Linked DNA regions of Homo sapiens. The protein of the gene in region 6 purifies or fractionates together with the protein of the main gene of each other region. This does not show direct contact. Each region holds a gene or a part of one and is shown on either strand. Other genes may lie near its edges.

Region 1 (4,362 bases), on a different chromosome or scaffold from region 6:
TTAAACCCACCAAAAGGACCTCTCTTTAGTCTGGAGGTCAAGTGAAAAAGGCTCTCATGAAAGTCATTGCCAGCAGGCCTCTTCTAAGTTCAGACTCTGAGGAAAACCAGAAGTCATTCTGCTGATTCATTTTTTTTTCTTTTTAGTTTTTCTTTTGAATTTTTGGGACACCACCTTTATAACAAATAAAAGGGGAGGCAGTTCTTCCTATGAACAATCTGATCTGTCAGTTAAAATTTCCTAGAACTTGTAATTTGATGCATCTTAGATCCAATGTGAGTGATTGAAACTTACAAGCAGACTTGTTCTCCTCCTCCCCAGCCCCCTGTCTGTCTGTCTCTCTCTCTTTTCCTTTCTTCTACTCTGTGCCAGATACTGTTCTTGGCACTGGAGATGTAACACATACATACATCTCTGCCTTCATGGAACTTAGATTCTAGTGGGGCGGACAGACTTTAAGCAAATGCAGAAGTGACATATATGGTATATCAGATGGTGTTAAGAGAAAAACAAAACAGAGAAGATGGTTGAGGGGTGTGAGAGGCAGGGGTTGCAATATAATATAGAGGTAATTAGGGAATGTCATTGATAAGATGACACTGAGAGCAGACACCTGCAGGAAATGAAGGAGCCGGCCATGTTCCAGGCAGAGAGCAACACAAGTCAAATCTGGTCCCTGAGGCAAGAACACGCATGGCAAGGTGGTCAGAGTGCCCAGAGCAGAGGGACGGAGGCAGCCAACAACCACAGTGGGGAGAGACAAGTCGGAGAGAGACAATTGTTTTGAGCCTTGGGTTTAACTGTAGATGGGAGGGAAGCGCTGCAGAAGCTTGAGCAGAGGTCTCTTGGGGCAGGGAGGCAAGGAATAAGGGTGGAAGCAATGTAGCAAGATTGAAAATGAAGTCTCCTACTTGCACTTTTTTTTTTTTTTTTTTGAGGTGGAGTCTTGCTCTGTCACCTAGGCTGGAGTGCAGTGGTGCAATCTGGGCTCACTGCAACCTCTGCCTCCTGGGCCCAAGCAATTCTCCTGCCTCAGCCTCCTGAGTAGCTGGGATTACAGGCATGCACCACCACACCTGGCTAATTTTTGCATTTTTAATAGATACTGGGTTTTGCCATGTTGGCCAAGCTGGTCTTGAACTCCTGACCTTAAGTGATCCACCCTCCTCGGCCTCCCAAAGTGCTGGTAGAGGTGTGAGTCACTGTGCCCAGCTCTACTTGCACATTTGTGCTCATCTTTGGGCAGCCGGTAGTGTACTTTGGTTAAGTGGTCACCATATAAGTCCCATCTCCCCTCTACCACCTGCTCCCCCTTGACCCCCAACTAGACCATCTCCTTTTTCAATTTTTTAAAATTTATCTTTATTTTTAAAAACAGGGCCTTGCTCTATTGCCCAGGTTGGAGTGTAGTGGTGAGATCACGGCTCACTGCATCCTCGAACTCCTGGGCTCAAGGGATCCTCCTACATCATCAGCCTCCCAAGCAGCTGGGACTTACAGGTGTGCCACACACCCAGTCCCATTTCCAATTTTTAAAGCAGTAATGAAGAGATCTGAAAAAGAGATTTGAGAAAAATTTTGACTGAGCTTGTAGTGGGAAATTCGTAATATCTTCAGGGTGCAATCGGTGGCATTTGTTAATAAAAATATCCAGAAAAAGTGCCAGACTTAAATCAGCACTCAATAAAAATAAAACGATGAAATGGATCAGCGCTCTGGGAGTGGAAGACCCGAGTCCTAGTCTGGGGTCTCCCATGTCCTATCCCCATAAATTATTGTGTATTATTGATTCCAGAACATATTTTTTTCACATTTTAGTGATTATGCAATTTGTGTTGTGATTGATGGCATCTCAGCACCGTGCTGCCCTTTAACGAGCAACTGTTTCGTTTCTTAGTGTTCCATCAAATAGCAGTGTGCCTTCACCATGGATGCCTTCTGAGGCCACCTCTGTAAATTGTGAAAGTACTTTATGTAAACTGTGGCACACTTCATAACCTCAGTAAGTGATGAAAAATGGCATTCCTCCAAGATGCAGAGTCTGAGGGCTCAAAAGTACCTGGTTAGTCTTGAGTACTTGCTTCTCAATGGCCAGACTGGCATGCAGTCTGTCCAAGTCTTTTTAACTTTGCCTGGCACTTATTTTCAGAGCCCAGGGCTTGTAGTTAGTATTTGTCTGATTAACGATGAGGTTGGTTAAGAGTTAGAATGGGGAGGGTGGGAAGTAAGTGATTTAACTTGAGGCTTGAACCTGGAAGTTCATCTAGAAATAGACATAAACATTGCCCAGGGAAAGTATCACCAATGTGGATTTTTGTTTCTTTCAAGGCTACTGAGCTGTCATGACTTTGTCATTTCTCTTTTCTGGCCCTTTTAGAAATGTACTGTGGTTGTTTGTTTTTTTGTACATCTTCCTCTTTTGACATAGCAAGGCATGGATTCTGTCAGGTTCATCTTTATAGCCTCTGACCCTGGCCCAGAGGTGCCTAGGAAACATTTAAAGAGTAAATAATTGATTCTCAAAGATAAGCCTTTCCACCTCGGTCACCACCCAATCCATGTGCGCAGAACTCAGAAGGAGGAGCCAGGTTGGATTGTCATGTACAAACAGCATCTGCTGTGGTCTAGTCCCTTTGTCTCCCAAATCTCTTTGCTTCTGTTCTGCTGTGTTTCAGGGCAGGAAATAGAAATCAGTCTAGATATTTTATTTTTTAATTTAATTTAATTTTTTTTTTTGAGACAGAGTCTCACTCTGTCGCCCAGGCTGGAATGTAGTGGCACCGTCTGGCTCCTCTGCCTCCTGGGTTCAAGCGATTCTCCTGCCTCAGCCTTCTAAGTAGCTGGGATTACAGGTGCCCGCCATCACGCCCAGCCAATTTTTGTATTTTTAGTAGAGACAGGGTTTCACCATGTTGGCCAGGCTGGTCTCGAACTCCTGACCTCAGGTGATCTGCCCGCCACGGCCTCCCAAAATGCTAGGATTACAGGCATAAGCCACCGTGTCCAGCACCAGTCTAGGTATTTTAAGCAGAAAGATATTTACTAGAGGGAATTTTGTGCTTATAGAGGCATAAGGGGGCTGGAGGAATGGGGCTCCAGGAATGTCTCCCAGCTAATGGTAGTAGTTTATATAATAATTAATAAACAAACGTATGTTGGCATGGCTGTTCAAAAAAAACAAAAAACAAAAAACAAAACTGACTCACTAGGGGTGCTACACCCTCTGATACTGTGTCTGGAACTATTGAGTTCAAGAACAAATTGATGGCAAAGCCGGAGAGTGGACCCTATAATGCTGTTGCAAAAAACCCTCGTGACCCCATCTCCATGCTTGCCAGCGGCCAAACAGCCCCAAAGGCAAGAAGATGGCCTCTCTGCCCCACATCTGCTTTCTAAATCTCAAGTGAGTGCTTCTATTTGGGAGAGCCAAATTCACATCTAGAACCTTAGCTTCAAAGAAGCCTGGGAAATACAGCTTTTCAATTACCAGCCTCTGCAGGCTAGAAAGCTTTCTAGAAGGAGGGTAGAATGAACGATGAGCAAATAATCACAATACTCACCACACCCTATTGGTAAAACATATTTGAGCAGCCATCCCTCAATATATTTTGTTTATAAATAATTTCTGCATATTACTACCATTATCTACATATCTAGGATAGGATCCTTTCTGACTAGTGACTGCAAACCCCTATGTCGTTATCTGTTGGATAATTCCGTTGGCTGACTCTTTATCAATTCTGATTCTTTCATCCTTTTGACCTTGTAATGTTGTCCACAAAGATACAATGGAGAGCTAGTACTCAAGAGGGAGGAATGCCATTTTCTTGTGTGCCTGGATTGTGACAATTATCTTCAAGTTGTGGTTTCTTGGCTGGGATCTCTTTAGGCCTCAGTTCTATTTTGTGAGGAATAGGATAGTTAAAAGTAGATAATATAATCTGTAAATTTACTTATGATTCAGTTGTAAATGGTTATTCATTGAAATATGCTGAGAATGGTGGAATTATTGAGGTGGTCACTCCAGTTCATTTTGTGGTTGAGGATACCTGCCTGAGTTTCATAACTGACATGTAATTTGATATGACAGGTTAGATGGAGTTGTTTGTGGCCATTTGTATTCTTGATATAGTTAAAATTTTTTTAGGTTAACTGAAAATGGAAGGTCTGGTGTCTAGATGAACAAAAAATGGGAAGTCTGATGTTTCCTTCCCGGACCCCTTTTGTGGCACAGTGTCCACTAGGATTTTGGAACTCCAGGACTAGACCTGCCTTGAATGTCATTGGTTATTGTCAAACCTGCCATTGTCAACTCTGGGTAAAAGTACAGTGTTAACCTGGTGCCAGTTCTAGCGGTGGTGG
Region 2 (4,362 bases), on a different chromosome or scaffold from region 6:
AGAGGTCTCCAAAACAGGAGAGGAAGAAAATGACCTAGTGTGGACTTACCAAATGTTTGTTTTGTTTTTCTTTTTTAGGACCGTTGAGTCCACACTGATTTTTGCAGGCTCCGGACACTTTGCTGAGATAAAAACCTTCCATTCCTCAGTGATTTGGAGAGTGTCTTTCATGGGAGTAGCACCTGAAATGTTTTTATTACTCAAGTGCAGGAAGTCTATCACCTGGCTTTTTACTTTTTTCCCCCCTGGTAAATTTTGTTAGGTGTCATTGCAGCTCAGTAACTTCTGTGTTCCAGATGGACTGGGATGTTACTTGAGTGTGGTCTCGCCGTGAATAAAGAGATTGTGTTCCTGAAGGTGGAATACTGGCTTTTCTATATTGCCTCCACCTTTGTAGAAGAGATAAAAACAGAAATAATAATGAAAGCACTAGTAAATGTTAGTACTTAATTTTTTTTAAGATCAAAAGCCTTTTGGGGGCACATTTTCTCAGGTGTTCTAGTTGATGTGAAACAGAGAGGTGGCAATATCAGAAGAAATCTTACCTGACTTTCAAGTTTTAGAGTTTTTTCATTTTTATTTTTCCAGGCTGGAAAATACAAAGAGAACATAATTGTTCAATTTTACACTTTATTTTTAACTTCTAATTATTGATATTTAAAAGAATACCCCAAAGTAGAGAGTATGCTACAGGTAGTCACCACACAAATTCAGCAGTTGTCAGTATTTTGCCCATTTTATTTCATCTGTCCCTCGCCCTCACCACCTTTTTATTTTTTGTTGGAGTATTTTAAAGGAAATCTCAGACATACTATTTCATTCTTTAAGTATTTCAGTATGGCTGAGTTTATTTCCAACGAAGTATAAGCCAGTGGTATATCTTCTTGTCTGGTTATGAGAAAGCATTTTTTGGTGAGAAGTAAAAATCGTAGTTTTTCAACTAATGATACCTCTTAAAGGGAAGGGAATGGTTGCCATATTGGTGCTGCTTCTAGGGTATGTGGTGCGTCATCCTTTGCATTTCTGCTTCAGGATTTAGTGATGGCTGAAAGCGCTAGGACATAAGAATGCTTTTTGGATTAATACATTGGGCATCACTCCTGCCCAAAATATGTGTATCTTGTCCACATGTAGTCTGGAATTGGACTTTTAAGTTAACCTTCAGATTGAGTCTTTGCAAAAAATCAGACCAGGCTTTACAAAAAAAGCTCCAGGGATTCTTTTACAGCTGTTGTTCTCCCCAAAAAGGTTTTAATGGATTCTTTTTAAAGTCAGTTTTGGGAAAATGTATTTTAGACTAATGTTTATCTTCTAGACAAAGCAATTTTTAACTGGCAGGCAGAAGACATAAATACTTGCCCAAGATTACATGTTGAAATATGTCTTTTCTTTCTTTCTAAAGATAACTGGTGGTCTCAGGTATGCCCGAAATATTTCATGAAGCTGGTAAACCTCTATAAAGGTGCAGTCCTTTATCTACTGAGGGGAAGAAAGACATTCTTAATTCCCGTACTGTTTAACAATTATATCACAGCAGCTCTCAAACTCTTGGAGAAGTTATATAAGGTGAGCATAGGAGGTGCTAGTGGGGAGGGGGTGATTAGATGGTAGGGTAAAATGTCCTAGTGAGATGTTCTCTGGGAAGCCATGTTTCAGTTGTCTGTATTTTGTTCTTCATTAGGTAAATCTTAAAGTGAAGCATGTGGAATATGATACATTTTACATTCCTGAGATTTCCAATCTCGTGGACATTCAGGAAGACTACCTCATGTGGTTCTTGCATCAAGCAGGGATGGTAAGAATTCATAAAGCATATTTTAAAGCTTTAGTCTTTTTATAAGAAAAGCACATGTGAGCTGTATAATATGTCTTTGACTTTGATGTCAGTGTGTCACCTATTCTTCATCCAGCTGGCCTTTTGCATTCTAGAAACTTGGAAGTGCTTTAAGTAATCATCAATGTTATAAGGAGTCATAAATGAGTAGTCACCCAGAATGTTACACATTTTATCAGTTGCCCCCTTTAAAAAAATCAGAGTATCTAAAGTAGTCAAATCCACAGAAACAGAAAGTACAGTGGTGATTGCTAGGGGCTGGAGGCAGGGGAAAATGGAGAGTTGCTATTTAATGAGTATAGCTTCAGTTTTGCAAGATAAGAAAGTTTGGAGATCCAATTGTACACCAGTGTGACTATACTTAACACTGCTGAAAGTGTACACTTAAAAATGCTTAAGATGGTACATGTTATGTTAGGTTTTTTTTTAAACCATAATTAAAAAAACAAGACACATACAAATATGAATTTTTAGCTTTCCTCAAAACTTGGAAGATCTGGCAACACGACCTGTCTTCCCATATGACACCAAGTGGCTGGAGTTCAAGAGTGACTCTTTAGATGAGGCTTATGTATATGCCACAATTCCCACTGCAGCGTAATTTATCCCTGACATTGAGGAAGGGTCATTTGCTAATTATCATCTTCTGACAGCCTACTCCAGTCATCATATGTCAGCTACCTGGACCCCGTAGGCCCCTTCTGATTGAGAATTATGTGTGTGAAAGTGTCACACATCCCTGACCAAGTGCTGTCTCACCGTATTTTAGATATGCCATTCAGGGGCCTGTGGATTCCTGCCTACCACCTCTGGCGTGGCAGGAACTGCTCCTTTTGATAGCACACCAGCTTGGGATATATGCAAGGCTCTTTAGGATCTCCCATCTGTGGAGTATGTGCAAATTTGAGTTAGGTCAGAAAACAGAATGATAATTTGGTTATTGTATTTTGTGAAGCCATGTGCAGCAGATTTGAGGTGAGTCCTTGCCAGTGTAGCAGGTTCATCACCAGTATTAGGGCAATATTTTTCCTGTGGGGTTTTTGGAAGTCAGCAGTTGTCTCCAAAAGCAAGACATTTAAATAGGCTGATCTAACTGAACAAGAAGGATTGTTTTCTTTGTCAAATAATAGATGATGAATGCTAGACACAATGTTGTATTTTTTTCTCTAGAGACTTAAAAAATGCATACAATGTTTTATTTTTAAATAAGATTTTATGATTACCCTGAGAAAACAAAATACTTTTTTTTTGAGACAAGGTCTGGCTCTATCACCCAGGCTGGAGTGCAGTGGCACCATCTTGGCTCACTGCAACCTCTGCTTCCCAGGCTCAAGCCATTCTCCCACCTCAGCCTCCCGAGTAGCTGGGACTACAGGTGCGTGCCATCATGCCTGGCTAATTTTTGTATTTTTTGTAGAGATGGGGTTTTGTGATGTTTCCCAAGCTGGCCTTGAACTCATGAGCTCAAGTGATTCACCAGCCTCGGCCTCCCAAAGTGCTGGGATTACAGGGGTAAGCCACTGTGCCTGGCCAGGAAAATACTTTTTAATATAAATGAGTTAGAGTGTTCTAAATGGGCTGACTTGGGAAATTTAACATGGAGGCTAGTAATGAACTCTGTTTTCACTTTCAAATTTAGGAATTATTAAAAAATAAGCCCTTCTGTTTTATCAATTTATGAATAATTATTCACTGAATAATAACATTATGAGCAGAAAAATAAGCCTGATGAATTATTTAGTCCAACTGCTTTGTTTCTAGATGAGGAAATGGAAGTTAAACAATTTTTCCACTAATTTCATTAGTAGCAGTAAAAGTCAATTCTTCTGATTTCTAATCTACCCTTTCTGTGACTTGATGCTGAATAAAATAAGTCTAACAAATTGTAATTCTTTTTTACTCTGAAAAAGAAGTTGCTCATGTTAAAATCTAGATTATTATGACAGTAGTCTCTGAGTAGAGATATTTAAGTAACTTTTACAATATTTTAAACTTCCTTTCTTTTAACATTTGATAAATATCTTATCAGATCTTGAATAACAGATGCTCATCTCTTCAATAACTATAATAGTTATTAAAGAAATATGGAAAATTACATGAAATTAGTATATGGCCTTTTGTGATTTTTGTGGAATTTTTTTTATTGTATGAGGTACAATGCTATTAGAAATTGAATTTTAAATGTCTTGATATTTTGAAGTTTAATTTAAAATACTAAAGCTATTTCATATGTTATTTTTGTTTAACTACTTTTAAATAATAGATGGATTTTTTTGATGTGTGTTGGCATTTTTAGCTTGTTAATAGCTGAGGCTGTGTAGTATATTATTGAGCACATGCTCCAGTCAAAAAGACCTGGGTTCAGTTCCTTACTCTGGTCTAATGGCCATGGCCTTAGACAAGTTACCTAATTTCTATAGGCCCAGCATCCTCTTTTGTGAGTAAGAATTATAACAGATTGTGGAAATTAAATGGGAGAAAGCATGGAAAGACCTTGCTTAGCAGAGTACTTAGCATATAATAAGCCC
Region 3 (4,362 bases), about 88 Mb from region 6:
CCCCTTTCTATTCCACAAAACCGCCATTGTCATCATGGCCCGTTCTCAATGAGCTGTTGGGTACACCTCCCAGACGGGGTGGTAGCCGGGCAGAGGGGCTCCTCACTTCCCAGTAGGGGTGGCCGGGCAGAGGCGCCCCTCACCTCCCGGAGGGGGCAGCTGGGCCCGGCCTATTTTTTTGTTTTTGTTTTTTGAGATGGACTCCAGCTCTGTCGGCCAGGCTGGAGTGCAGTGGTGCAATCTCGCTCACTGCAACCTCTGCCTCCTGGGTTCAAACGATTCTTGTGCCTCAGCCTCCCGAGTAGCTGGGACTACAGGCACGTGCTACTACACCCAGCTAATTTTTTGTATTTTTAGTAGAGACAGGGTTTCACACGTTGGCCAAGATGGTCTCAATCTCTTGACCTCGTTATCTGCCCTCCTCGGCCTCCCAAAGTGCTGGGATTACAGGCGTGAGGCACCTTGCCCGGCCAACTTCACTCTTTTGGTGTTTGATTTTAGGGCATAAAGTTTATCACTTGAGTCCTTGAATGAAAGGAAGTGTAAACCCTGACGAGTATGGAGTGTGGACTGTCTAGATGCCCCCTGGTCTAGGGAGGGATTTATCCCTGAACAGAAGGTGCCAGAACATCCAATTCTTAATGCCCAGATGTCCTGCTTGTTCCTTTCTGAAGGTTAACACTAGGCATTGTTGCCCACCCCCTGGTTTTCACGAAGGAAATTACTCATCCTAGTGAGGAAGAAGCCACCGTCCTCGTTGGGTGCCCTCACAGTGGCAGGTTCCATGTAGCAGAGAAGTAGGTCGTGCTGGACCTGATCGTTCCTGGAAACCAGGCATGGCCCGCGGAGTATAGTCTGTGGTTTTCTCTTTCAGTTATCTATGACTTTCTGGCTGTGGATGATATAAACGGGGACAGGATCCAAGATGTTCTTTTTCTTTATAAAAACACCAACAGCAGCAACAATTTCAGCCGATCCTGTGTGGACGAAGGTAATTTCATTTTATATGAAAAAGGCGGAGCTCCCTGTAGAAAGAGGAATCGTCATTTTGGGTCACCCTCTCGCTTTCAGTGTTTGGGGGAAGCAGATGGTGGTGTTTCTGGAACCCATCTCGTCATCCTTCCTGGCAGACCAGAAAGAGGCCTGGAAGCCCAGTCCCAGCACTGCCCTGGCCCCTGAGCCCCGTGGGGTCAGCATTAGAGCCCCGGGAGCCTGCAAGATACAGGAGATCCACCTGGCGGGAGGGGCTGTGGCCTAGGAGAGGTGTGAGGAAAACAGACCTGGAACAGCACATGCTGGGGCTGGCCGGCCTGCCTGCCCAGATGGTGCAACAGTGAGGTGCCGGTGTCTCTCCCTACAGGCTTTTCCTCTCCCTGCACCTTTGCAGCTGCTGTGTCGGGGGCCAACGGCAGCACGCTCTGGGAGAGACCTGTGGCCCAAGACGTGGCCCTCGTGGAGTGTGCTGTGCCCCAGCCAAGAGGCAGTGAGGCACCTTCTGCCTGCATCCTGGTGGGCAGACCCAGTTCTTTCATTGCAGTCAACTTGTTCACAGGTAGGCCAGCCAGGCAGCGGGGTTCTCACTGAGGGCCTCTCACCTGAGCCACCTCACCCTGAGGGCTAATGCCAGGAGGCCGCGACGAGGCTCAGCCCTGTGATCTTGAGGGTGGCTGGATGGGAAGGAAGGTTATGGGGAGAACCTCCAAGTGAGGCTGCAAGCGTGTGGAAGGCACACGCCTCGGCTGCCTTCAGCTGCACTGTGTCTGTTACCTCCCGTTACACCTTGCTGGTGGGCTGTAACACACAGGGGCAGTCCGATGTCACCTGCCATGGGGTAGCAGAGAGGAGGAGCGGCTTGGCCCCCGGCTGCTCCTGGGGTGTCAGTGGTGGCAGTGCCCAGGGCGAGCCCAGAACATGAACCAGCACTCGGCCCGTCAGGGGAGATCGGGGCCTGTCAGTGCCCCTAAGCCTGAAGGTGCAGGTCTCCGAGCCCCAGCGGAGCCGGCCTCGTGGAAGGACGAGGGAAAGAATGCGTGGTGCACGGGGCCATGTGTGTGTGTGGGCTCCTTGCACCTCATCGCGGTCTGGAAGATTTCTGTGCCTAGATTTGGTGAATGTTCATATTTCCCTTACAAGCTGTCATTTTAAGGATATGGAGGAGAATAAAGAGCAGGCTGAAAATATTTTAAGAATCAAGGAATCTGTCTTTAAAAAAAGGTTTGGATGAGATTGTATGTGCGTAAGGAGTTGGACGAGGACCTGTGGTCAGTAGATCTGCCTCCGGGCGCACACCTCCATTCTTGCCTTCTATGTGGAGGGCAGATGAAGGGGCCACTCAGCTGGGGCCTGCATGGCACCAAGGGCACGCCTGCAACCCCAGCAGGAGGCAGGGGCTTCGAGAGGTGGGTGAGGTCAGGCTTCATCCACTCGGGCAGGAGGGTCAGCATGGGCCCTAGAGGTTCCAGGACACGCAGATAGGAGAAAAGGAAGGGGGAACTCTGCGGTTCCCAGGAATGAGGCTGTCAGCGTTTGGCATATTGCCACCGAGTCTCCATACACGGGCAGGACGTGTGTCCACCACCTCCGCGTGCTGCTCCTTCACGAGCACAGGAGTGCCGCCCTCCCCTCCTGTTGGCATCTGCTCTGAGTGTGCAGTGAGCCGTGGGCTCACGAGGGTGATGCCTCAACAGGAGCCTGCCTGTCACAGGCCTTGCAGTTGCCGGGCTGCTGTTGAAGGGGACTCAGGGCCACGTTCCGTGACCGTGTGCTTGATTCTAGGGGAAACCCTGTGGAACCACAGCAGCAGCTTCAGCGGGAATGCGTCCATCCTGAGCCCTCTGCTGCAGGTGCCTGATGTGGACGGCGATGGGGCCCCAGACCTGCTGGTTCTCACCCAGGAGCGGGAGGAGGTACATCCCAGCCTGGCTCTGCTCCCAAGTCACGAGGCCACCTGCCACACGGCCCTGCTCTACCTCCCCATCTGCTGCCACTTCCCAGACAGGATTCGGGTCTGACCACTTGCCGGGGACTCGCCCAGAGCCCCACGTTCCCAACTCCCATAGACCCAGCATACTCAGGGGGCTCCATCTCTACCAGGCAGCTTTGGGGCCTCCCCAAGAATGGTGGAGTACACACTTCCCATTTGTGCTGTTGCAGTGTTGGGGGTGAAGCTCTGAGGGCTGGGAGCACCTGTGAGGCACTGGGGCTGCCCTGCCTGCCTCATGTGCCCCGTGCAGTGTGGAGGCACCAACCATCGTGGCAGACTCTCTGATGTCAGCGTGTCTTTCCTCAAAACCAAGAGCCTGTGGGCCCCTTACCCTTCCACATCTCCCATTGTAGAGTGCCCCGCCCCCAGGCTCACGTCCCTCTCTTCCTGGGCCTTGTGTCATTGCAGCCCCAGGCTCAGGTCCTTCTCTTCCTGGGCCTTGTGTCCTTGCAGCCCCAGGCTCAGGTCCCTCTCTTCCTGTGTCATCCTGTGTCATTGCAGGTTAGTGGCCACCTCTACTCCGGCAGCACCGGGCACCAGATTGGCCTCAGAGGCAGCCTTGGTGTGGACGGGGAAAGTGGCTTCCTCCTTCACGTCACCAGGACAGGTGCCCACTACATCCTCTTTCCCTGCGGTACGTTGTTTCTGCCACATCCCTGGCCAGCCTCACTCGTGGAGCATGACTGCCCTGCGGCTCCTCAGGTCCTGCTTCTGCTCTCGAGGTGCTGGAGTCAGGAAGCCCAGGGGCCTGGCTCCATGTGGCACTGCGTGCCCCTGGTCCGGGTTCACAGCGTGACCCTGGTGACCTCGGGCCCTTCTGTGTTTTGAATAGCAAGCTCCCTCTGCGGCTGCTCTGTGAAGGGTCTCTACGAGAAGGTGACCGGGAGCGGCGGCCCGTTCAAGAGTGACCCGCACTGGGAGAGCATGCTCAATGCCACCACCCGCAGGATGCTTTCCCACAGGTGGGTCCGGGCCGCAGCCTTTCTCCATGCAGAGCGCCCACCCCATGGCTCTGCTCGCCTGCCTCAGCGTTCGGACAATCTGTGTGGAGCCCAGAGCAGCCCCACCGGCAGGGAGGTGCTCGGGGTACCGCAAGGTCACCCTGGGCTCAGATGTGAGAAATGGTCAAATAAAAGTTGAGTAAAGAGAAGAAAGGTTCCCGACGCTGTGCCTGTCTGTCTCCACGGAAAGTGGGGGTCTTTCTTCTCTTTTCTGTTTTTTTTTTTTTTGGTTGTTTTTTTTTTTTAAGACGGAGTCTTGCCCTGTCCCCCAGGCTGGAGTGCAGTGGTGCGATCTCGGTTCACTGCAACCTCCGCCTCCCGGGTTCAAGTGATTCTCCTGCCCCAGCCTCCCGAGTAGCTGGGATTACAGGCGCGCAC
Region 4 (4,362 bases), on a different chromosome or scaffold from region 6:
AATTCTGAAATTTTAAGTCAGGTGGGGTCTCAATTAAGGCAGATTAATTATTAAGTGCAAAACTAATTATACACAGAATGGCTATGTCTCAGCTACTATTTTGGTGTCATCTTATGGTGGGCAAGTTTGAAAATAAGTAACCTCTTGTAATTACTTAAATAAATACCCATTGCCAAGGCCTTTGAAAATATCAAGTTCTATGTAAAGACAAAACAGTCATTAGAGGGAAAAATAACTTTAAGAAAATGAAACTGTTTACTGGAAAAGGAATGAAAAACCGGGAAAATACCAGATTCCTTTTTCTTCAGTAGGGTTTTCAAAATCTTTGCCAATTCCTATTAGACCATTGGGAAGGGAAGACAAAGAAGGAAAGGGAGAGATGTTAGAGGAAGGTTATGGGTTCCTGGCTTGACAGGTGGGAGAGCTCAGAGAGGTGGGGGCTCACTGGAGCCATGGAAATGACAGGGAAGGGGCCTAGCAAACACACCAGACCACAGTACTGTGCACAGACAGCTGGACTGACTAGAAAGTGTTTTATCCCCCAGAGTGGGGAAGGAAACAGGCTCCTCTGGGCACAATGACCTGGAGAGGGCAGAGCAGTCTTCTTGAGTTCCAAGCCATTCCGAGGAGCCAGAGTAGGGTGTAGACGGCAGCAGCCTCCCCGCCTGCCATGCCACAGCCTCTCCCTGCCATGCCACAGTTCAGCTCCGAGAGAGAGTGCCAAGGTTTGAGAGACAACCCGTGTTTAATCCTTCAGTGGTTTTGTAGAGAGTGAATTTCAAAATTCTTAGGGAGAATCAGTTTACACTTTTCTAACAAGGCTGAAGTAATATCTTTCCCAGCATACCTGCTGGAGGTTGGAGCATGCAGATACAGATCTCCAGTTCATGGCCCTCTCAAAGGCAGGCTGCCCGGGTGCCCCGGGAACCTATACAATGTGTATTATTTAATTATTATAAACATTTTCCATCAGTTGACTTTTTTCTTCCTGGAATGCATGAATGAGTTTTTCCAGATTTGTTTCTTGTATTTTGGCTCCCTGCCAGCCCTGGGGATACTGCTTTTGCAAAGCAGTCTGCTACATCGGCTCATATCCCCTAAAGAACTTAGGGTTCCACTTCCCAAGAGTTTGTAATTTTCCTGAGGGCAAAGCCTGTCTCTTGTTCATCTGTCTCTTGTTGCACCTCCAGGAAGGGCCTAACACACTGTTTGGCACAGAATAGGAGCTCAGGAGTGACTGTATTTTTCTTTGTAATCGAGAGTCTAATAGAAATTTTACCTCTAATAAGAGCACAGCCCACCTGAAACCAAAGTTCAATTATAATTGGATCACATCTGATTGGCAGTACTACATGATTCTGATTCACTTTTCAAAAATTAGAAAATAACTATTAAATAAGTACAGTTTATAGATGAAACATTTCCAAACACAGGGGCCACATGCAAATGTAAATAAAGGGATTCTTGCTTGTGAAACATTGGGAATCACTTTACTAATTTGGTCTTTTTCAAGAGAAGAGATTCCTTCAATTGATTGGATTGGTTGTGGGGACCCTGGGCAGAGTGTTTGGAAAGGGGTATCTTCTAGTTTTTAGCTCTGGCTTCTTTCCCTGGCCCTTAAAGCACATGAAATATTTAAGCTGTTTTACATATTCTCTTCCTTCACGTATCCTTTGGAGGAAGGAAGGTACCCAGCCCCACAAGTAATAGCTTTCCATTCTTCTTCCTGGAGCATCCACAAGATGTTTTTGTGGGGGAGAAACCAGCTAATTTCAGCTCCTCTATTAACTAGCTGTTTGACCTTAATCCCACTAGGCCTCAGTTATTTCATTTGTAAAACAAGAGGGTTGGATTACAAATTTTGTGTGTGTGTGTGTGTGTGTGTGTGTGTGGGAGAAACCAGCTAATTTCAGCTCCTCTATTAACTAGCTGTTTGACCTTAATCCCACCAGGCCTCAGTTATTTCATTTGTAAAACAAGAGGGTTGGATTAGACTACTAATTATTTATTCAAACCTTTATTGTGTCCCCATCATGTGTAAAAGGTTGTGCTAGGCACTGGAATTACAGGGTGGAATTGAAACAAGGGACTCCTCATTTACAATGGAGGCTGTATGAAGGTCTCTTACAATTTGGTGAGAAAAGTGGCGTGACAGTAGTTTGTTGAGAAGGCTGTGATAGAGAGGAGTGGTGTCTCATCCAGACTTGGAGTGGCCACAGAAAGCTTCTCGGAAGCTGAGACTGCAGGCAGGAGTGAGAATTAGCAGGTGGGTGGTGGGACAGGACAGAGATGGGGAGATACGGATGTTCAAGCAGAAGAGCATATGCAAAGACCCAGAAGGCAAAAGAGGCGGCTGTGTTCTGGAAATTGCAGGTAGTCAGTTTGTCTGAAGCGTAGAGTATGATTGGGGAAGGTGGGTGCAGAGAGGGGAGGGGAGGTAATGGTCAGTTTATGAGAGCCTTCTCGCCTTTTCAAAGGATCTGACCTGTATGATAGAATGATAGAACCAGATTTGCATTTTAAAAAGACCTCTCGGCCTGTGCAGTGGCTCACGCCTGTAATCCCAGCACTCTCGGAGGCCAAGGTGGGCAGATCACCTGACGTCAGGAGTTTGAGACCAGCCTGGCCAACATGGCGACACCCCGTCTCTACTAAAAATACAAAATTAGCCGGTCATGGTGGCACATGCCTGTAATCCCTGCTACTCGGGAGGCTGAGGCAGGAGAATCGCTTGAACTCGGGAGGCGAAGGTTGCAGTGAGCTGAGATCACGCCATTGCACTCCAGCCTGGGCAACAAGAGAGAAACTCCATCTCAAAAAAAAAAAAGTTGACTGGGCACAGTGACTCACACCTGTAATCCCGGCACTTTGGGAGGTTGAGGCAGGCAGATCACCTGAGGTCAGGAATTGGAGACTAGCCTGGCCAACATGGTTAAACTCTATCTCTACTAAAAATAAAAAAAAAATTAGCTGGGCGTGGTGGCAGGTGCCTGTAATCCCAGCTACTCGGGAGGCTGAGGCAGGAGAATCGCTTGAACCTGAGAGGCGGAGGTTGCAGTGAGCCAAGAACGCGCCATTGCACTCCAGCCTGGGCGACAAGAGTGAAACTGTCTGAAAAAATAAATAAAAATAAAAAATAAATAAAAAGACCTCTCTGAGCTTTGTCACTCAAAGTGTGGTCCACAGACCAGCAGCATCAGTCACACCTACTGTGTCAGAAGACTCGGGTGACTCACACACATTTCAGTCTGAGAAGCGCTGATTAGAGGGCAGTGTTCGGGACAGATGAGTGCAGGGGGAATTGCTAGGGGTTCGTAAAAGAGCTCTCTTTTTCTTCCAGCGGTGAAGCACTATGAGGACTGTAATTCTAATGGAGGCGTCTCTCATGTCTACACATCTATGTTTCTGTATCGTCTCTGCTGTTTTGCTTTATCGTGAAGTGTGGGGCATTTCGGCCATGTGCCCCCCTGAGTGGCATGGTTGTCTACCCTAGAGAAAGGGAAACTGAACACATGTTCCTGAGATCCCGGTGTTGTTATTTCCTCCAGCCTCCTTTCTCCTTCACAGTGTACTGAGCACAGTTAGTACAGTGCCATGAGCAGTTCTGTTAGTAGCTACCTTTGAGATCTCTCTCCCTGCCCTACTAACCCTGTGGCTCAAACAGAGTTATATGGTCACTGTTACACTATTCCATAATGATTTGTTTTCTTGCTGGTCTCTGTAGTAGAAACTGACCCTTTTGGGGCAGGGACCCTATCTTTCTTATTTCTGTACCAACATAGCCTTGGATCATGCCTAGTCCAAATAAGCATTTAATAAAGGCTTTTTGGTTGAAGAATGAATGAATGGATGGATGAATGAATGGAATTTAACCATTCAAACACTACTCTGATCCAAAAGGAGAACTTGATTTATAATTTGTCTTAATGTATCATTTGGCTATTTCTGTGTAATAAATCACCCCAAAATTTAGTGGTTTCAGATTCTCAGTTCTTAAGATCTGATCCCTGGACAGAAGCATCACCTGGGAACTTGCTAGAAATGCAAATTGTTGGGCCCCGTCACAGACCAGCTGGATTCAGAACTCTAGGGTGGGCTTAACAGTCTCTGTTTTAACAAGCCCTCATGGTGATTCCATGCTGGTTCAAGTTTGAAAGCACTGGATTAAAACGGTAGCCATTTATTTAGCTCATGATTCTGTAGTTTGGCAATTTAGGCTGCAGTCAGCTGGGTGGTTCTGGTCTCAGCTGAACTCCTTCAAGTTTGTCATCAGCTGTTTATCACCTTTGCTGGTCTTGTCTGGCTCTCTCACTTTGGGACTTCAGCTAGGACACTGAGCTGATCTGGCTCTCTTCTGCATGG
Region 5 (4,362 bases), on a different chromosome or scaffold from region 6:
TATCCAAAACCCGCTGGGCTGGATGTGTTTCAGAATTCATAATCTTTGGGGTTTTAAAAAGGCAATATGGGCATATTTTGAATATTACAAAACACCTCCACAGCATCTAAGGGAAAACCTATAATCAAATCCATGGATATTTCTTCAGGGAAAATTAAGTCACAATGAAGTAGCATAAATATAAAGTACAATACTCTCACATCAGTTCAAGTCAGATTTTGCTGCCAAATGAATTACGGTATCAAATTTAGAAAAACACAAACCAACTTAGATTTCGAAGTTTCTTTGCTAAGGGACTGTAGCCCTTTAACATCTCTGACAAGGAAATTTCTTCTCTGACATGATGGTCTCTGCAAATCTGCTCTCATATTTCAGTGGAAATTGGGATAGGGACAATTGTCTTCTACCGCAAAACAGGGGCTCTCAACAGGTGCTCTTAAATTTATTCGGGTAGTAGATTACCATCTCACTGGAGGCAACAGGTTCTATGAGGATAATTTGAAAAAATATATTGAAATAACTATTTAATGTTATTAAATCAGACACTTTCTTGGACTAGATTCTAATATAGATCAGCAGTAGAAGGTGCCAACATTCGAGGAACATTTATGAGAAAAGAATAAAACTGAGAAACATCCAGACATTAATGCAATTGTTTTCTGCAAATTATAAAAAGCTATGATTCCATTTTAGCAGCTGCACAACGCAACTCGATATAATCTGCAAACTTTGGCTCTGTAAGACTGAAAGATTTATGAAACCATTCTGGCATCAACCCATCCTTACAAGCTGCAATGAAATCATTCCAAGCAATTTATATATTAAATAATAATTTCTTCTGTATCTATCAGTGTTTAAAATATGCTATTCTCAGATCTTAATAAAAACATGGGTTAAAGCCATAAAACATCTTATTTTTTAAAAAGTTAAGTCATTTAAAGTCAAGAGCTTCAAAAACTCAAGAGCAAAAAAAAGGTATGCTATAATTTTTAGGTCTTCAATTTTTGTATAGAGTTTTTATGTTTTTTAAGTTTTATTTTACAATTTAAGAAAGTTTCCTCTTCAAAAACAGAGGTCTTTTCTCACCGAAGTGATCTGGAATGTGCTACCGTATATGCAAGGAAGACAGGTTACAAGATCAAGGTGAAGGCAGCTCTCCTCAAGTCAGAGGAGTGTGAACAATGAGCAGGATGCAACGGGGAATGTTGGCTAAAACTCATCAGAGGCACTTGCTGTCAAAATCCACTAATGAACACAGATCCTATAACCTGGAAACAACATTCAGGGGCCAAGAGGGTTTCCAGGGCTACAGAGTTAGATGAGTGGGCTTCCTTAGCATGTGGTATAAAAATAATGTCTGCAGGTTCAGTGGGAGAGTCACATAAAGAACAGGTGATCATTTTATTTCAAAAGCAACTCTCTTCAAAATCAGCCTTGTCTTTTTTTCTTAATGAGCAAACTTTATACCATCATCAGCCTTTCCTAAAAGCTACATATATGCTCCGAGAAAAAGTCACACTTTTTAATTTTTTCATTTGCTTTAATTAATTCATGAGTTAAGTTAAAAAGTCAAGTCGAAAATTTTAGCTGGTCTTTTTTTTCCTTTTTTTTTTTTTTTACAAAAATATTACAGCAGTATAAGCAAAATTGGAAAGGAAGAGATGGGAAAAACAAGTAGATGCTAAAATGGGATAGGTGAACTTCAGGTCATCATGGTTATTGAAGGAACTGTAAATTCTTAAGCTTCTAGATTTTACCGCTCTTCAGAAAACATTTAAGGAGGCTGCCTTTCCCCATGAATGAGAAATGAAACGTTCCCTAAGCATTTGAGTCTAAAGACAAGAAAGCATTGCTTTTCCTACTGGAAAATATCTCTTTACTTCCCATTGCACTGCCCTCTCCCGTCCCCCTCGTAGCTTTATGGGATCAAAGAGAGAGAGAAGCCATGAGTTTCCACCAGCAGCAGAGTGAGTCCTGAGCACAACACAGGGCTGTCAGTGACATTCAGACTCACTGGCAATGGGTCCAACTCATCTTGAATAAAATACACAAAGAAAGAAAGAGAGAGAGAGAGAGAGACAGAGAGACAGAGAGACAGAGAGACAGAGAGACAGAGAGACAGAGAGAGAGAGAGAGAGAACCCGAGAAACCGAAAATTGTTTTTTTATGGAAGGTTTAAACAAAGTCCTCAAGATTTCTTTATGTGCCAGAAAGTACATTTCTGGACTTAATCTCTAGGGGGGCAAAAAAGAATAAATAGAAACAAATTTAATGATCATTCTGGAATCCTGTTCTTTACTTTGTTCACACGCTATTAATTCTCATACCTTCACCTCTCTACCACAAAGCCTAGAAAATCAAATGGTCTCCTATTCCATATTTGCATAGTATTAATAATACTGTCAGGAGGTGAACTTCTAGCCCCTTGCTTGCAGCCACATTCCTGAAGAGCACTGGTCCAATCTGACGTATTCGAAAACAATACATAAGTGTCTATAGGCCAAAAATTGGGTCCCATTTAGCAGCAAGCTGTTCAAATTATTTGGAAACAGTCTTCTTCCAAGGGGTAAGAAGATTAGGCAGTTTTGTCTGCATTTTCAGATTTTTCTCTCTGCATCATGCAGCGACGAACTATGCTGTCAAAACTTCCAAGGTAAAACAAAGCAATAGTGCGGAAAAGGCCCATGGTGACCACCTGCAAGATAAAGAGAGAGCTTTTAGTGCATCCAACGGTACAAGACTATTTCAAGGTACCTAGGTCTCTAACAAACAGTTTCTAAGACAAATCTTCTAGTCTGCTCTAAGGATGAATATAATGAAAACTCTGTAAATGTCAGTAAGCTGTGAGAACAGAATGTGTGTGCTCTGCACCGCTGGACAGCCCAGATACATAACAAAATATTTGTCCAATTAATAAATTCAAACCATAAGCAGAATAAAATATATATTGCTTGCAGTCTTAGGGTTATAATAGCTTTAAAAAGACCCACTGCAGCATCTCAAATAGCCAAACTACAATCAAGGCTTTTTTGGTTTGCAATTTATGTTCTGAGCATGAAAGCGAGACCCTATACTAGGTGCTGTGAACACTGTGGTGAGAGACACAGTCCCTGCCCTCAATGAGCTTATTCTCAGGCTGGAAAGACAAGTAAAATTGAAACTACTGCCTCAGGGTTGAGACCCGTGATTACTGATATCCTGTTGCTCAGGATGGAGTGCAGTGGCATGAACGCGGCTCACTATAGCTTTGACCTCCCAAACTCAAAGGATTCTCCTGCCTCATCCTCCCAAGCAGCTGGGACCATAGGCATGAGTCCCCGTGCATAAGAGAATGGAAAAATCAGGCCGGGCGCGGTGGCTCACGCCTGTAATCCCAGCACTTTGGGAGGCCGAGGCGGGTGGATCACGAGGTCAGGAGATTGAGACCATCCTGGCTAACACGGTGAAACCCCATCTCTACTAAAAATACAAAAAAATTATCCGCGTGTGGCGGTGTGCGCCTGTAGTCCAAGCTGCTGGGGAGGCTGAGGCAGGAGAATGGTGTGAACCCAGGAGGCAGAGCGTGCAGTGAGCTGAGATCGTGCCACTGCACTTCAGCCTGGGTGACAGAGCAAGACTCCGTCTCAAAAAAAAAAAAAAAAAAAAAAGAGAATAGAAAAATCCCTTTGTTTTTTTCCCTACACCCTCAGAGCACTGAAGCCAGTCCTTGGATCTTCCGGAAAAAACAATATTTAAGGTGAGACCTGAAGGATTAGAAGTTGGCAGGACACAGAGAAGATTCCAAAAAGAAGAAGATGGGTAAAGAAAGAAAGAAAAAAAAGAGCCTGGAAAGGTACGTGGGGTAGGAGATCAGGTGGTTTATGGCATGCGATGGAAATTTTTTTAATTTTTAAATCCTTTTTAGAGACAGGGTCTTGCTCTGTCACCCAGGCTGGAGTGCAGGAGTATGATCACAGCTCACTGTAGCTTCAGACTTCTGGACTCAAGCAGAAGTCTCCCAGTTGCTAGGAATACAGGTACACACCACCACGCCTGGCTTTCTTTTCTTTTACATTTTTTTGTAGAGACAGGGTCTCACTATGTTGCCCAGGCTGATCTCAAACTCCTGAGCTCAAGCGATCCTCCTGACTTGGCCTCCCAAAGTGCTGAGATTATAGGCATGAGCCACCATACTCAGGTGCAATGGAATTTTTAAAGCTTTATCCTGATGGTATCAAGGAGTCATTGAATGTTTTCATGCAATGTATAGTTGCAGTTTAGAAACAACTGGTGTGGAAAATGTGAGGGTACACTCAAACGCATCCAGGGGGCCTGAGCAGGGGGTTGCAGACCATAGTGGTTGCAGGGACTGTGCTCCTCCCT
Region 6 (4,362 bases):
GGGTACTTCGCGACTCAGGGCACCTCTTTTGGGCCTCGAAGACCTCGCAGTTGATAAAGGATGCTTGACCCGCCGCTTGCTCTGGGAGCTCAGTGTGTCCTGGGCCTGCCATTCTTCTGTGCCGTCGGCCTCGGGAGGATGACAGGCTGGGGAAGCTGGGGCTCTGCCGGTGCCGTGTGCTGGGACAGAATCAAAGGACGGGAGCGGGGCTTGTTTTCCCGCGGCCTTCACCTCCCGGTGCCCTTCGTCAGACGCATGGACAGAGGCCAGGGCAGCCACAGCCCTGTGCTGGGGACAGTTCTCAGGGTCTTTCCCCGCCTGTGGAGTTGGAAAAAGCTTTTACTTCTGGTGTGAGGTTGGCAGCTCTAAGCAAAGGGCCCACTCCTTCATGAGTTTCCAAGACCGACAGACACTGCTGGTGGTCCAAAAGTGCCATCTGGTTGCCGCCAGAACCCCCAAACCCAAATTCCTGCCCCATCACGGTTCCCAGGCATTAGATGGCCAGAGCGAAACAGGCATCTGAAAAGCGGCGCCGTGGCCTAGGGTGGGCGTGGACTCCGTGGGGTGGGCGTGGACTCTGCCTGGAGTGGGCATGGACTCTGGGGTGGGCGTGGACTCTGTGGGGTGGGCGTGGACTCTGCCTGGAGTGGGCATGGACTCTGGGGTGGGCGTGGACTCTGTGGGGTGGGCATGGACTCTGGCCTGGGCTCTGGACTGAACCCATGTGGCGGTCACTGCACGACTTCCCTGAGCCCACAGGGCAGCTAGCTCCAGGGTGCTGACCACATGGGACTCACAGCCCCCTCTTAGATGAGGTGCCATTGGCTGTGCACTCGGCTGGTGACTGAGAAGTGGGGTGTGAGCTGCAGCTGTCCTGCCCCTGACCATGCCTGATGCACTGAGAAGCCGGGAGGTCTCCCCTGGGTGGCACGGTTGGCCCCTCATGTGTGGTGACAGATGCCTACAGACTGGCTTTAGCAACAGACATGCAGACGGTCCTGGTCCTGGCAGCCAGAGGTCCAGACCCAAGGTGCCACCTTCCCCTTCCAGCTGCCCGTGGCTCCAGGCATCCTGGGCTGGCTCTGGCTCTGTCTCCCCTGGATCTGTCTCTGTGTCGCTGAGGACACTTGTCGTCGGCCTTAGTGCCTACTCTAATCCGGGATGATCTCATCTCAAGGTCCTTCGCTAATTGCACCTGCGGAGACCGCATTTGCAGCTAGGACACATCCCGCAGCTCCACTGGACGTGAATTTTGGGGACACTGTTCAGCACACTCCACCTAGAGCCCCAAGGGGCCAGAGTGGTTGGAAGGCGGAAGGCCCCAGCACAGTGGAAAGTCCGCGCTTGAGGAGTGACTCTCTTGTCCCTGAGGTGTTTCCAGGGCTGGGGCAGGGGCCCGTCAGCCCTGAGGTTCCGGGATGCCCTCCATCTCCACATTCCCATGTTCCCCACGCTGGGCAGGCTCTTCTCTCCAGGGACACTGCGTTCATGGGGAGACATCGTCCTCTGAGTCAGGAGCCAGAGGCTTGGAGGGTTGGCCGCATCACAGAGGAGGGGGAAGATCCCGTTCCCACGTGCGTTTGGCCACTGGGGGCGTCCCTGGGCCCCGTCAGCAGGATGGCTTTAGCCACCGGCGGAGTCTCCCCTCCAGCCTCGGGGTGGATGGTTCCCATGGCCGCATCTGCCTGACTCAGGGATCAAGGCCACTTTTCCCTGAAATCATCTCCCCAGGGCCTTTGGAGCGCTCGTTCCCACCGCAATTACCCCGCTCTCGGGGGAATCCTGCTGACAGGGCTGCTGTGCCGGGGTCGCCGCGGCGTTTGCAGTTTGCCTTCCCCCCACCCGGGGTTTGGCTGTGCGTTTGCTTTCATGGCAGCTCCACCAGCCCCTGAGGAAGATGCCTCTTAGGGACAAGGAAGGGGCTGGAGGGCCCCACTCAGGCTCTGCGCTGAGTCTGTTCTCGCGTCTCTGTGGGCTCTGGCAGATGTCACCGTCTGTCCACGGTGATTCTCTTCCTCACTTCCCTGTCACGCTGTCCCCTCCTTGTGGGTGGAGGCTGACTGGATAGCAGACTGTCAGGTGTGGAGGCTGGGTGGCTGCTGGATGAGTGGGCCGCTCAGCCATTCCTTCCAGTCCTGCCCAGTGCCTGGGGCTTCATGTCGAAGCCAGGACCACGCCCGAGTCTAGGGTCCATGGGAGAGAAAGCTGAGAGGAGCTGGTCCTGTCCTCCCGGCAGGGGTAGAGGCTCGTGGCTGATGCCTTGTCATGGTCTTCTTGCACAGGGCCTCAGCCTGGCACCTCTGCCACCGTGGGCTCTCTGTTGTGTGGGGGTGTCCCGTGCATTGCAGGACATCCAGCAGCATCCCCGGCCTCCTGCTCCGTGCCAGTAGCGCCGCACCCCGCCGTCGTGACAGCCCAGGTCTCCCGGTGTGCAGAATGCCCGCTGGTCATGCTGAGAGGTACAGGGGTGCTGCCCCCAGGGTTTGAACGCTGTCTAACTCCCACCTCTGGTGTGTCTCTCCCCTGTGTGTAGCGTGGAGTCACTGGATGAGTGTGGTGACCTCCCTGTGTCCAGCTGCCCTGGGCTGCAAGCAGGTCCCTCCTGCAGCCCTCCAGGCCACCCTTAAGCAGAGCTGGACCAGCCTGGCCAACATGGTGAAACCCCATCTCTACTAAAAATACAAAAATTAGCCAAGCGTGGTGGAACTCTGTCTCAAAAAAAAAAAAAAAAAAAAAAAAAAAAAAAAAAAAAAAGTTACTCAGGCCTTAGGGCTGCCAATATCTGGCTCCTGACTGAAGACCTCATACCATGTCAAGCCTCGGTATATTGTCCTTAGCAAAAGCAGCCACCCTCTGTGTAGGATCAGCCGCCTTTCTGTCATGAGGCTGGAGGTCAGCTATGAGGATTGATGTGTCTGGCGGGGACCTTGGACTGAGGCCTCCTGTCCATCAGCTCAGGCTGAGTCCGGGGGTGGTCACAGTGAATGGGGCACGTGTTTCTGGCCTCCAGGGCTCACCTTCACCCCCTCCCACCATGAGTGCCAGATGGGGGAGGCAGGACCTTGATTCTCAAGCAGCCTGGCAGGTCTGCATTCCCCCACTTGTAGGACAGATGCTCCCCCCAGCAGAAGTAAGTGGGCGAGACACAGTAGGGCTATGCAGATGTGAAGGGTCTGCACATTCCAGAACATTCCATCAGAGAGCAGATGGGAGAGAGGCCAGAGGGGCTGTGCCGAGGTGCTGTGCAAAGTGCCCTGTCCTGAGCTGCTCTGAGCTGCCCCCGCTCCAGGCCTGCAGAGTCAAGCTCCGCCTGCTGACCACCTGGTGACCAGAATACATCACACGCAGGCAGTGGGCCCTGGAGCTCCTTCTCAGGAGATCAAGGCCTCAGCAGGGCAGGGTGGCGGGCAGCCCTCAGGGAACCCACCAGCACCCCCAGTGTAGGCTGAAGATCAAAGGCCCCAGCACACCTGGCATCTGGGACAGACAGAGCTGGAGGCAGAGCCGCAGGCATCCAGCACGCCACGGGGAAGCAGGTGCAAAACAGGAACTGGGTCCACCCATCAGGAAGGGACCCCACCGTGGGCTCTGCCGTAGGAAATCTGGTGCCACCTTTGAAGTGCGCACTTTGTTTGGGGTAATTGCCAAGGTCTTATGGGAACCTCCCTTCACGGGTCCCCTTTGAAATTTGCTCACCTCGTCACTCTGCGGTGTTCCCTGGACCACCAAGGTGGTTCCCCTTCTTGGGCCCCCATGGTGACCTGTGGTCCAAGGCCACATGTTGGGACACAGCAGCCCCAGGGCCCGTCCCTGCCTGGCCCTGTGAGACGGGCTGGTGACTTTCCAGCAGGAAGGATACTGTCACACACGGTTCTCTAATGAACTAACAGTCCACAGCCTGACCAAGATTTCCACTTGTGCCTCCAGCTGTATATGCACCTGGCAGGTAGGCAGGAGGGGACCCGGCTCCTTTGTTCCGGTGGTGTCTTTGGTCTTCTTTCCAAGTTCTCCTTCCTGAAGCGCAGTGGTCTGTGAGACTGATGTCTGGGCAATATATTCCGGGCTCGAACACACCAGGCCCATTTCACAGAGGAGGCAACAGCCACAGAAAGGGCCAGTGCTGTCCCAGCAGCCACGTGACCTTCCGGAGACACCCCTTCCCCCAAAAGACATGTCCTCCTGGGGAACCTGTGAATGCTGGTGGCCTTATTTGGAAAAAGGGTCTTCGCAGATGTGACTGAAGTTCAAGTTTTGAAATGAGGTCCTTCTGGAATAGGGTGGAGCAGTCACGAAGTCCAGTGACGCGTGTCCTCAGAGGGCAAAGGAGAGAGCTCTGCACACAGCACGGGGATCGTTCTCGGC
Region 7 (4,362 bases), on a different chromosome or scaffold from region 6:
AAGGACCTCGTACCAAACGCCACCCTTTCCTTGCTCCATTTGGTAAAGCTCTCCATAAATTACCATTAATGGCAGCACCTCATAAAAGCAAATTCGGAGCTGGGTCTGGTGCTGTGGCTGCTTCAGGTTGCTGAGAAAGACATCCACTGAGGTCGCTTTTCTTCCCTGATGTTTTCCAAAATGGAATCAGGAGTCCTGCTGCTTAGCTGATGCTGGCTAATGCTGAGGCTGCATGGGTTTGGGTTCTTATTTATCTTAGATGTTTTTCTGTATTTTTTTAAGATACCCGTAAAATCTGTACCTTGGACATGGTGGTGTCCGACACTTCTTGAACAGTTTGAGAGGAAGTTAGTGTAGCTGGAGTTAGTAAGCAAAAGACAAGCCTTTGTCTTCATATCTTTAATCTTACAAGGTAGTTGATTTATTATTATTATTATTTATTTATTTATTATTATTTTTTTTTGCGACAGTCTCGCTCTGTCCCCCAGGTGGGGTGCAGTGGTGTGATCTCAGCTCACTGCAAGCTCCGCCCCCGGGGTTCACACCATTCTCCTGCCTCAGCCTCCAGAGCAGCTGGGACTACAGGCACCCACCACCATGCCTGGCTAATTTTTTGTATTTTTAGTAGAGATGGGGTTTCACCTTGTTACCCAGGATGGTCTCGATCTCCTGACCTCGTGATCCGCCTGCCTTGGCCTCCCAAAGTGCTGGGATTACAGGCATGAGCCACCGCACCCGGCCGATTTATTATTTTTGTAAACAATTTAATTGTTTAGTTTACTGATGGAAGGCTGAGTACCCTTCTAGAAGGCAGAGTTTTAGATTCAAGTAAAGCTCTGTTAACCAGAGCCTGACGAAGGACTTTTTTTCCCTGATTTTTTTTTTTCCTGTGCCCTCTTTTTAGCAGAAGAATGTATTTCAGGAAAATAAGACAGTATTGGAAATTTTGTTTCAACAAAACAAAATAATTGTCGAGGGCCAGGTTGGCGGCACGACGGGGTGTGCCTGGCTCTCATCCTACCTGGGTTTCACCTCCCCTGGGTGGGGAGTCCTAGACTTTGCCATTTTCAGTCTGTGGAGAAGGTCTCAGTGATTCCTGAGAAGGTTTGTGTGGGGCAGCATCATGAGACACTGCAGAAATATTTGGGGAAAACCAAGGGCTTTCTGGCTGCTCTGCCTCCCCTTCCCGCAGGGGTGCTAATGGATCTGGCCCACCCAGATTCCTGACATCTTTTGGTGAACTGAGGCTTTGTCATACTGGGGCTAGAAGCCAAGTGTATATGACTTGTGGGGTGTCTCTACCCCATCTCCCCCTGCCCCCATGTGCAGTAACTTCTCTCCATAGTGGAGATGCTGTGAAATGCCCCCAGTGGAAAGTGTTATTGCCATTTGATACATAGTGGTTTGGTTTTTCCTGGGTTGAGGCATGTGGTGTGGATTTCTGTTGCTGAGCTCAGAGATACCTCACATAAGACATTCACCCCTTGAGTCATACCCACGTCCTCACTGCAGAGTCACAAATGGCACTGGTGCTACTGGGGGAGGAGACGTGAGCACACACGCGTTCTCTTCTGTGCAGCTGTGGGCCAGCCTCGGAGCTGGCTGTGGAGAGCTGGCCTCACTCACCCCTCTTGCCTGCACTAGGTGTGGTCAGGTGGCAGCATCAGTGCCTGCATGGCAGCCGAGACACATGGTGGGCTCCCCTACACATCCTGGCTTCCCAGGGATCCCTGCACTGGGATTTCTCCTCTGGCTTGGAAACTTAGCCAGGACTGCTTCAGAATGGTTGTGGGTGGGATATGCACATAAGACACTCTGACCCTGCTGGCTTCATCTCTTTAGGGACCTCAATCGGAACAGGATTCGGCTGATAGAGGGCCTCACCTTCCAGGGGCTCAACAGCTTGGAGGTGCTGAAGCTTCAGCGAAACAACATCAGCAAACTGACAGATGGGGCCTTCTGGGGACTGTCCAAGATGCATGTGCTGTAAGTGCGGACCAGGTTACTGGCATTGCTAAGGATTGCTGTGCGGTGTGGTGTGATGTGGCGTGTGTGTGTGTGCGCATGCATGTGCGCACCAACACCAACGTTGCTGTGTGTTGGGTGTGTGCGCCCACACCAGCATTGCTGTGTGGTGTGGGGTGTGTGTGCGTGCGCGTGTGCACGTGCGCGCCCACACCAGCATTCAGCTGTGCACTGGGCATGGAGTGGGGCACCAGTGCCCAGCCCCTCTCTCCTGAAGGATTCTTCAAGACTTCAGCCGGACCCAGCCCCCTTCCCTTTGCAGCTTCACCTGGGCCCAACTCATTGTCTTGGGGACCGGGCCAAACCTGAGGGTATTTTCCTAGCAGATTGGGACATCCACTGAAATCCACTTGGGGGAAGTTTCAGCGGATTGAGTCAGATAAGTTGGTTGATGGAGATGGAGTTTGGGGGCCATTCTGCCAGGACTGCTTTCCACAGCTTGCATCCACTGCCCCCGCCCCTGCTTCTTCGGTGAACGTGGGGCTGCGGAACAGACCCCTCCTCACATCCTCTCCACTCCTGACCACAGGAAGTTCCTTCTCTCCCCTTCTGGGTTTGACAGTCTTTCCTGAGGTGCAGGTGGGCCAAAAATGTAGAGCTCATCTTAGGAGGTTTATTTCTGTCTTGTGAGCTAATCAAGACACTGGGTGCAGATGTTTAAGTTTTATCAAGGGAGCAGTCTCTTCAGCCAGATGTGTACAGCAGCAGAAGGGGCTTGCCTGCACGGTAACGTGAAACAGCAGGGCAGCATACAGAAAAGGCTTTTTAAACGTTGAAAGCCTTTTTAAACGTTAATATTTATTTTTAATCAAAAGTAATTTGACTGTATAGTTAAATAAAATCAGATAGTAAAGAAAAGCCATCACTGCCCACCCCAGCCTCCCCCGCCACCACCCCCTCATTCTCTCTTCACCCCAGTTCTTCTCCCAAGAGGCAAGCACTTCTAAGCCTTTCTCTTTTTCGTTTTTCTGTTTTTAGCTTTGCTGGTTGTTCCTTCCAAGTTGATAGACTGACACCACTGTCTTTACTTATCCACTTGCGATTTCCTCCTTGAGAGTCAATGATTTAACTTGCTCATGTCCGCCCCTTCTTCTTCCAGTCTGGGCAAATTATATCATGACTCGAATGTCCTTTACTGGTTTTCTTGGCAGTGGAAACGAGCTAGGCCCAGGTCCATCCACATGTTGTGCTGTGTCACTCTGATAACCGTCTCTGCATGACCAGCCCTCCCTACTCTGTGAACAGTGAGGATGTTTCCTGCCGCTGGGCTTCTTGCTCTACCCATTCTCCACCCTTTGTTTTACATATTCAAAAACGTTTCACTTGACCTCCTTAGGCATGTCATTTTGGACTTGGAAGTCCAAGGTGGTCATGTGCTGGGTGGACTGAAGTTAAAAGAGAATTCTCAGAGGAAAATGGAGTTAGCACCTACCATTTGGTTTTTATGTTGAACAGATTTGTATAAATTGAGACTGATGAGCTGCCTTAGAGGTTATTTATACATTAAGTGCTTACCTTTTGAGCAGTAGCAGAAAGAAAGATGGAAAAAAGCAAAACTCAGTTACCCAAAGCCCTTGTAATACTGAACACGGAGCAAAATTCGGGTTACGGACTTTTGTTGAAGAGGCGGTTGCCTGGGCTGGCGCTGTCCTTCCTGGCACATGCTGTGTTGGGAAGCGGGGTGCTAGCACACTTACACGGTGGGCCTGAGAGCTCAGGCCTAGAGCTGCACTGAATCCTGATGTACCCTTGTTTCCTTCTTATAGTGACCCCATGGAGTCAGTGCTCTTGGATATCTCCATGTTAGTAGATGTGCAGGTTTATTCAGCCAGCAAGCTGCAAAATTAGGATTTAAATCCAGGTAGTCTGACGCCAGAGCTAAAGCGGGTCTCCTAGCACAGTGGCACAGAGTCCAGCCTTTGGTAGGCAGACCCAGGGTTGAATTAATTCTAGCCCCTTCCCTACTGGCTAAGCTGTGTAAAGTCTTAGACAGGTTACCTGGCTTCTCTCAGCAGCACATTCCTCATGTGTGAGATGCGGGTGATAATAAGAGCCGCCTCCTATTCGCTCTCCTTTCTATTCCTTTAATGGGCTTTGCCCTTGCCTGGAACTCCTGTGCCCGTTTGTTGGCCTGGGTCACTTTTTGTTTTGTTTTTGGTAGAGATGGGGTTTCGCTATATTGCCCTTGCTGGTCTCGAACTCCCGAGCTCAAGCGATCCTCCTTCTTCGGCCTCCCCAAGTACTGGATGGGCATAAGCCGCCACACCCAGCCCTGGTTCACTTTTACTCAGCCAAAAAAGTCACTTCTAGGAAGCTCCCTCTTGCCCTATGAACACT

What was found.
Region 1: the proteins of SLC7A5 (region 6) and CHST11 purify together in Homo sapiens (affinity purification with mass spectrometry; one large-scale study listed by BioGRID and IntAct). This does not show direct contact.
Region 2: the proteins of SLC7A5 (region 6) and HERC3 purify together in Homo sapiens (affinity purification with mass spectrometry; one large-scale study listed by BioGRID and IntAct). This does not show direct contact.
Region 3: the proteins of SLC7A5 (region 6) and FAM234A purify together in Homo sapiens (affinity purification with mass spectrometry; one large-scale study listed by BioGRID and IntAct). This does not show direct contact.
Region 4: the proteins of SLC7A5 (region 6) and PODXL2 purify together in Homo sapiens (affinity purification with mass spectrometry; one large-scale study listed by BioGRID and IntAct). This does not show direct contact.
Region 5: the proteins of SLC7A5 (region 6) and KDSR purify together in Homo sapiens (affinity purification with mass spectrometry; one large-scale study listed by BioGRID and IntAct). This does not show direct contact.
Region 7: the proteins of SLC7A5 (region 6) and LRIG1 purify together in Homo sapiens (affinity purification with mass spectrometry; one large-scale study listed by BioGRID and IntAct). This does not show direct contact.

Annotation. Positions count from the first base shown.
Region 1 is NC_000012.12:104,463,151-104,467,512, forward strand, and holds part of CHST11 (carbohydrate sulfotransferase 11), read left to right. Parts: intron 1-4,362.
Region 2 is NC_000004.12:88,668,458-88,672,819, forward strand, and holds part of HERC3 (probable E3 ubiquitin-protein ligase HERC3), read left to right. Parts: intron 1-1,402; coding exon 1,403-1,566; intron 1,567-1,681; coding exon 1,682-1,795; intron 1,796-4,362. UniProt on the Homo sapiens protein: E3 ubiquitin-protein ligase which accepts ubiquitin from an E2 ubiquitin-conjugating enzyme in the form of a thioester and then directly transfers the ubiquitin to targeted substrates.
Region 3 is NC_000016.10:258,609-262,970, forward strand, and holds part of FAM234A (protein FAM234A), read left to right. Parts: intron 1-874; coding exon 875-991; intron 992-1,360; coding exon 1,361-1,552; intron 1,553-2,775; coding exon 2,776-2,906; intron 2,907-3,484; coding exon 3,485-3,617; intron 3,618-3,815; coding exon 3,816-3,945; intron 3,946-4,362.
Region 4 is NC_000003.12:127,631,611-127,635,972, forward strand, and holds part of PODXL2 (podocalyxin-like protein 2 precursor), read left to right. Parts: intron 1-4,362. UniProt on the Homo sapiens protein: Acts as a ligand for vascular selectins. Mediates rapid rolling of leukocytes over vascular surfaces through high affinity divalent cation-dependent interactions with E-, P- and L-selectins.
Region 5 is NC_000018.10:63,329,207-63,333,568, forward strand, and holds part of KDSR (3-ketodihydrosphingosine reductase), read right to left. Parts: intron 2,696-4,362; coding exon 2,576-2,695; 3' UTR 1-2,575.
Region 6 is NC_000016.10:87,841,740-87,846,101, reverse strand, and holds part of SLC7A5 (large neutral amino acids transporter small subunit 1), read left to right. Parts: intron 1-4,362. UniProt on the Homo sapiens protein: The heterodimer with SLC3A2 functions as a sodium-independent, high-affinity transporter that mediates uptake of large neutral amino acids such as phenylalanine, tyrosine, leucine, histidine, methionine, tryptophan, valine, isoleucine and alanine.
Region 7 is NC_000003.12:66,410,495-66,414,856, reverse strand, and holds part of LRIG1 (leucine-rich repeats and immunoglobulin-like domains protein 1 isoform 1 precursor), read left to right. Parts: intron 1-1,842; coding exon 1,843-1,986; intron 1,987-4,362. UniProt on the Homo sapiens protein: Acts as a feedback negative regulator of signaling by receptor tyrosine kinases, through a mechanism that involves enhancement of receptor ubiquitination and accelerated intracellular degradation.